Linked DNA regions of Homo sapiens: region 1 is linked to region 2. The links come from fine-mapping of genetic effects on gene expression. A gene starts in region 2. The other region holds a variant in brackets. All regions are shown on one strand. Distances are between the middles of the regions.

What was found. PIP is the estimated chance that this variant, and not a neighbour inherited with it, causes the effect.
Region 1: its variant is the best candidate, but not a certain one, in a credible set for the expression of ELK1 in whole blood (TOPMed, PIP 0.50).

The regions. Positions count from the first base shown.
Region 1 is chrX:47,731,436-47,734,346 of GRCh38, forward strand. It overlaps the pseudogene CXXC1P1. Among named protein-coding and RNA genes, the nearest start is that of UXT, 74 kb to the left of the region's middle. The variant G/A (reference allele first, on the strand shown) is at 1,317.
Region 2 is chrX:47,649,235-47,652,145 of GRCh38, forward strand. ELK1 (ETS transcription factor ELK1) reads right to left here and starts at 1,329. Exons shown (of 7, transcript NM_001114123.3): 1 at 1,189-1,329; 2 at 687-792. It overlaps UXT (ubiquitously expressed prefoldin like chaperone), which reads right to left. Exons shown (of 7, transcript NM_004182.4): 6 at 2,847-2,910; 7 at 2,562-2,661. The coding sequence ends at 2,608. RefSeq lists a cis regulatory region at 792-1,772 and a silencer at 1,104-1,513.

The DNA.
Region 1 (2,911 bases), 82 kb after region 2:
TTGGGTCAGGGTGTAAGGACAGGTGTTAATAATAAATGGGCTGGGCGCTGTGCTCATGCCTGTAACCTCAGCACTTTGAGAGGCAGAGGTGGGTGGATCAGTTGAGGTCAGGAGTTGCAGACCAGCCTGGTCAACATGGTGAAACCATGTCTCTACTAAAAATGCAAAAATTAGCTGGGCTTGGCGGCACACACCTATAATCCCAGCTACTTGAGAGGCTGAGGCTGGAGAATCTCTGGACCCCGGGAGGCAGAGGTTGCAGTGAGCCCAGATCGCGCCACTGCACTCCAGCCTGGGCGACAGAGCAAGACTCTTGTCTCAATAAATAAATAAAAATACAAAAATTAGCCAGGCATGGTGGCACGCGCCTATAATCCCAGCTACTTCGGAGGCTGAGACACTAGAATCACTGGCACCAGGGAGGCGGAGGTTGCAGTGAGCTGAGATCGTGCCACTGCACGCCAGCCTGTGTGACAGAACGAGACTCTGTCTCAAAAATAAATAAAAATACAAAAATTAGCCGGGCATGGTGGCGCACACCTGTAATCCCAGCTACTCCAGAGGCTGAGGCATGAGAATTGCTGGAACCCGGGAGGTGGAGGTTGCAGTAAGCTGCGCCACTGCACTCCAGCCTGGGCGACAGAGCGAAACTGTGTCTCACATAATAATAATAATAATAATAATAATAATAATAATAATAATAATAATAAATGAATTGGGAGGGGACAATTGCACACTTAGTCCCAATGAGAAATCTGCCTTTTTCCAAATGCCACATGATCAAATCAGTCACACATATGCAGCTTGTGATCACAGAGGCATGGAGTTCTCTGGCTTTCCATGGGGTGCAGCCTCTTGTCCAGCGGAAGTGTGGAGATTTCCAGCCTGCTTAATCTGAGCAACACAACCTTGACTTCACAGACCTATGTCCCTACCCAAGAAAGTCAGGAAATAACCACGTTTCTCATGAGTTATCGTTAATTCATGTATTTGTTGCACCCGTTGCAGTTCAGCAGCTTTTGTGAGCTTTTAAGAATCCCTGTAGTAAAATGTACAAGTATAGCTCCATAAAAATTAGATCAGAGAAAATATAGAAAGAATGGATGAAGTCAGGACCAGAATTGATTTGGGCTGTAGGCATTTGGGCCCTAGGGTTCTGCAGAGTAAAATTAAACTGCCAGTTTCCTTCTGAGCTTCCTATCAGACATAGCTGGAAAGAAAATGCAGTTATTTGTAGGATTTACCTTGGCCTCAGGGAGAAAAATGACTACAAGGGTGAAGAAAACATTTTCCAGGGTAAAGATTTCCTGATAATT[G/A]AATGTAAACCATCTCCCGCCCCCCTTATTTTTGAGACAGAGTCCTGCTCTGTTGTCCAGGCTGGAGTGCAGTGGCTCGATCTCGGCTCACTGCAAACTCCGCCTCCCAGGCTCAAGCGATTCTCCAGCCTCAGCCTCCTGACTAGCCGGGATTACAGGCACGTGCCACCATGCCTGGCTAATTTTTGTATTATTTATTTATTTATTAGAGACAGAGTCTCGCTCTATCACCCAGGCTGCAGTGCAGTGGCACCATCTCAGCTCACTGCAAACTCTGCCTCCTGGGCTCAAGGGATTCTCCAGCCTCAGCCTCCCAAGTAGCTGGGATTACAGGCATGCACCACCACACCCAGCTAATTTTTGTATTTTTTTGTAGAGACAGGGTTTCACCATGTTGGCCAGGCTGGTCTCGAACTTCTGACCTCAAGTGATCCACTGGCCTTGGCCTCCCAAAGTGCTGGGATTACAGGCATGAGCCACTGTGCTCGGCTCCAAAACCCCTTTTTGATCTCATTATGGATTATAGGTGAGGTGACCTTATACTTTATCATCCAAATTCAGAAACTTTGGAAAGTGAAAGAGGTATCATTAATAATCATGCTGGAACAGCAGGTGTAAACTGGACAGGTGGTCAACCTAATGATAAATGCGCAATAGAGTTTGCCATGGCCATCTTCTGGAGCAGTGGTTCTTCCAGTGTGTTCCCTGGACCACCACCAACAGCACCTGAGATATTGTTAGAGATGCAAATTCTTGGACCCTATGCCAGACCTACGGAATATCTAACTTTTGGGTGTGAGGCTCAGCAGTCTGTGTGCTGACAAGCCCTCTGGGTGATTCTGATACACGCTCAATGTTGAGAACCACTGATTTAGAGCTGTCTTCCAAATAAGTCAAAGGCACAGGGCCAGTGCAGAACTCAGCCCATCGGGTTCTTCATGTGCACACCTCTCTAATTATCTTGTTTCATCTAGGTACAAACTATCCTACATTTTTATATTCCTCTGGAGCCTTTTGACACTTCTTATGCCTTAAATAGTTCAAAATTAAAGGAATATTGGATCATACAATATGTGTTTTCAGTCTGGACTTAAAACTCTGTGTGATGGCCCTGCTCGTGGTCGGTTCCTCAAAAAAAAAAAAAAGTCTCTATTTTTAACATGTTATCCTGAAGTACAAAATACAACGGTAACGTGGAATTTATTCTTTCAAGATACAAAAGTTAGTTTATATTTATTTCCTGTATATAGAATCCCTTAGTGGTGATCCATTAGTTCAAGTAAAAAATCCATGCTTTTCCCATGATTGTAGTCCAGCATTTGTCCTTAGTTTTTATTAATTAATTAATTAATTTATTTATTTATTATTACTTTTGCCTCACTCTGTCTCCCAGGCTGGAGTGCAGTGGCATGATCTGGGCTCACTGCAAACTCCACCTCCCGGGTTTCTAACCTCCTGATTCTCGTGCCTCAGCCTCCCGAGTAATTGGGATTACAGGTGTTTGCTAACACGCCTGGCTAATTTTTGTATTTTTGGTAGAGATGGGGTTTCGCCATGTTGGCCAGGCTGATCTGTATCTCCTGACCTCAGGTTAT
Region 2 (2,911 bases):
TCACTTATTGTAGTGAGGCAGAACGTCTTTGTGGTTACGAGTGTGACCAGGCTGACCCACTATTAAGAGGTGGAGGACAGGGAAGGCCGTACAGTGCTCCATCACAAGGAAAAGAGGATCAGCACGTTCTCTTCTGGGAAGGGAAAAAAAAAGAGAAGGAAATTGAAAGTACACGGCCGATCTTCCCCCAATTACAAAGCACTGGACTCACGGGAGGGTATGCGGGGGACTGTGCAAGCATACAGGGGTGTGGGGGAGGAAGGCCAATGAACAGATCCACTGCAAAGGGAGGGGTGATGAGGCTCATCGTCTGAGGGGAAGGGGAGCAGAAAACCTTACAGACTCCTGCACCACAGTGAGAGGAGAGAAAAGCCATCACACAGACTGATTCAAAGCAGAGAGGGAAAAGGCTATGGACTGAGCTACTGAAAATAGGGAGATGTAAAGCACTAAACTAACCCACTATTAAAAAGGAGAGAACCCCAAGCGCTAGAGCGACAGTCTACGAAAAAGAGGAGACAGGGCAATGGACTGATAGCTAAAGGGACGTGAATCCAAACATGAAGACTGATCCACTATAAAATGGTGGTGGTGGTGGTGGGGGGGGGGGGTGGTTTTGAAAAAAGCCATGGACTGATGCATTGGGGGACTGGAGGAGGCAGGAATACAAACTCAGGTAGACTCACTGTTAAAGAGGGATGCGGAGGAGTGCGGCGCCACGGATTGATTCGCTACGATGTACAGGAAGGGTGGAATAAATAAGGCCACGGACGGGTCTCCTGAAAGTTGAGGCTAGGAGAAATCCAAACACTCAGATACACCTACTATTAAGGGGGCTGAACACTGTCACAGGCTAGCTCCCTATAAGTGGGGGTGGGTGGGGGGCGGGTGGGGGTAGGGGTAGGGGGAAAGCCTATGGACGAGTCCACCCTAAGTTGGCGTGGGGAAAAACATAAGCACGCAGACCGATCCATTATACAACGGGAGGGGGAGGTTAGGCCACGGTCAGATCCACTATAAGGGACGAAGGGCTTGAGCAATGCCACACGCAGGTCCACCAGCCGTGGTGGTGGCGGCGGGGAGTCGAACACCAGCAGGCCACCGGCCAAGCCACATCCTCTGCGCGGGGGCGGGAAGGATACGTGGGGTCACGGACTGGGCCCTCCACCCTCCAGGCCCAGAGCTCACCTGTGTGTAGCGTGGCGGTGGCGTTGGCAATGTTGGCAGCTCCGGGGGGCGGGGGCTCCATACGCGGCCCCACCGCCCCCCAGGCCTGGGTTCCGAGGCGGCGGTGGAGGTGGTGGTGGCGGTGGCGGCGGCAGCACCTAGAAGCCGCCCCTGCGTTTCCCTACAGCTCACGTGGGCCCGAGGAGGAGGAGCCCAATGTCCCGCCGCTCGCTGATTGGCCAAAGCGCTATTAATCGGCCGCAAGGCCTCGAGGGGTTGGGGGACGGGCCCTTCCCTACAGAGCTGTGCCGTGATTGGCGTAAGGGGAAATGATGGAACGCTCACGGCCCCTGGAGTCCCGAGGAGGCGCGTTCGGCCTTCACGGTGCTCCACGCCGATTGGCTCAAGGACTGACGGACTGTGAGCAACTGAAAAGGCTCGGGGCCTGTGTCGGGGGGGCGGGGGTCTGCCTCACACTGATTGGCTTACATGGGATTGATGGAAGACAGCCCCCAAGGACGGGGGTGGGTGGCCCTGTTTTTCTCTGATTGGCGGACGAGGGACTTCTAGACCCCTGCCAAAACACCAAGGGGGCGGTGTCGCACGCCATGCTGCTCAGCGGAAGCAGGGCTTGTATAGAAATGGGCGTAGCAGCCGGCGGGAGTGGGTCGGACTGGGCTCCGCGTAGGCGGGCAGGGCAGCTCTACGGTTAGACAAGACCATAGAGCTGGGTAAAGACGAATTTAGAACACAGCGGAGGTAGGAGGGCAGGATGGCTGTCAGGCACACGAAAGAGCATTGAGTGGCAGAAACGAAATGCTTTCAGAGGGCAGGGTTGAACTGCGGCCAGAGTTAAAAAGGGGAGGAACCTGGCTCTGCATTGATTGGCGGTGGCTGGACTCAACCTAGAATAGGGGCCCGACTAGGGAGAGCGGGATCCAGGTCTGTGCCCATTGGAAGCTGGAACACTTACAAGCAGGGGCTAAGACAAGGTAGGGCTGAGTTAGGGTTTGGGTGTAATTTGGGGTACCTGGGGAATGATTGGGTGTGTGAAAGCGTAAACCTTAGGGCCCTTTGATTGTTGTGGGAATGAACAAACCTCCACCATGAATTGGCCCATTCTCTATGGCAATTCAAAGGGTGGCGTCTAGGAAAAGGAATGGAAGAAAGGGTGAGGTGGGGGGCCCAGGTTGCCAAGATGACAGAAGAGAGGGCAGTGCATAAGGTCAACTGGCAAATACTGCCAGGCAACAGGCTGGAGGCAGGACTGCTGGGGCATTTTGGAGGTTCCACAGAGAGACTGGATCTCTGGGTCTCTCAGTAACTTTGTGCCCTAGGAACAGGCCCCCGTGGCAACTAGCAGGGTTTATGGGGAAAAAGAAGGGCCATGTGACTCAAAGGCATTCAGGCTCTTTAATGTCTGAGGATGGGGGGAAGAAGTCAATGGTGAGGCTTCTCTGGGAAATTCTGCAGGCCTTGTAGTTCTCTAAGCCCCTGAAAAAGAGGACAGAAGAGATTGAACAAAGACTGGGTCTGGGTTACGCCCCCAGGCTTGCTCTGACCTCCCTCCCTTGACTCCAGTTTAGAGGGAAAGATGGTCCTTCCCTTCTTTCGCTCTCTTCCTTCTTCAGGTCACCACCCTAAACACAGAGTCTGGTAGTGGGGTGAGCTGCTCTCACCTCTAGCAACATGTGGATATGGGCTTTGATATTCATGGAGTCCTTGGTGAGGCTGTTGCTGAGCC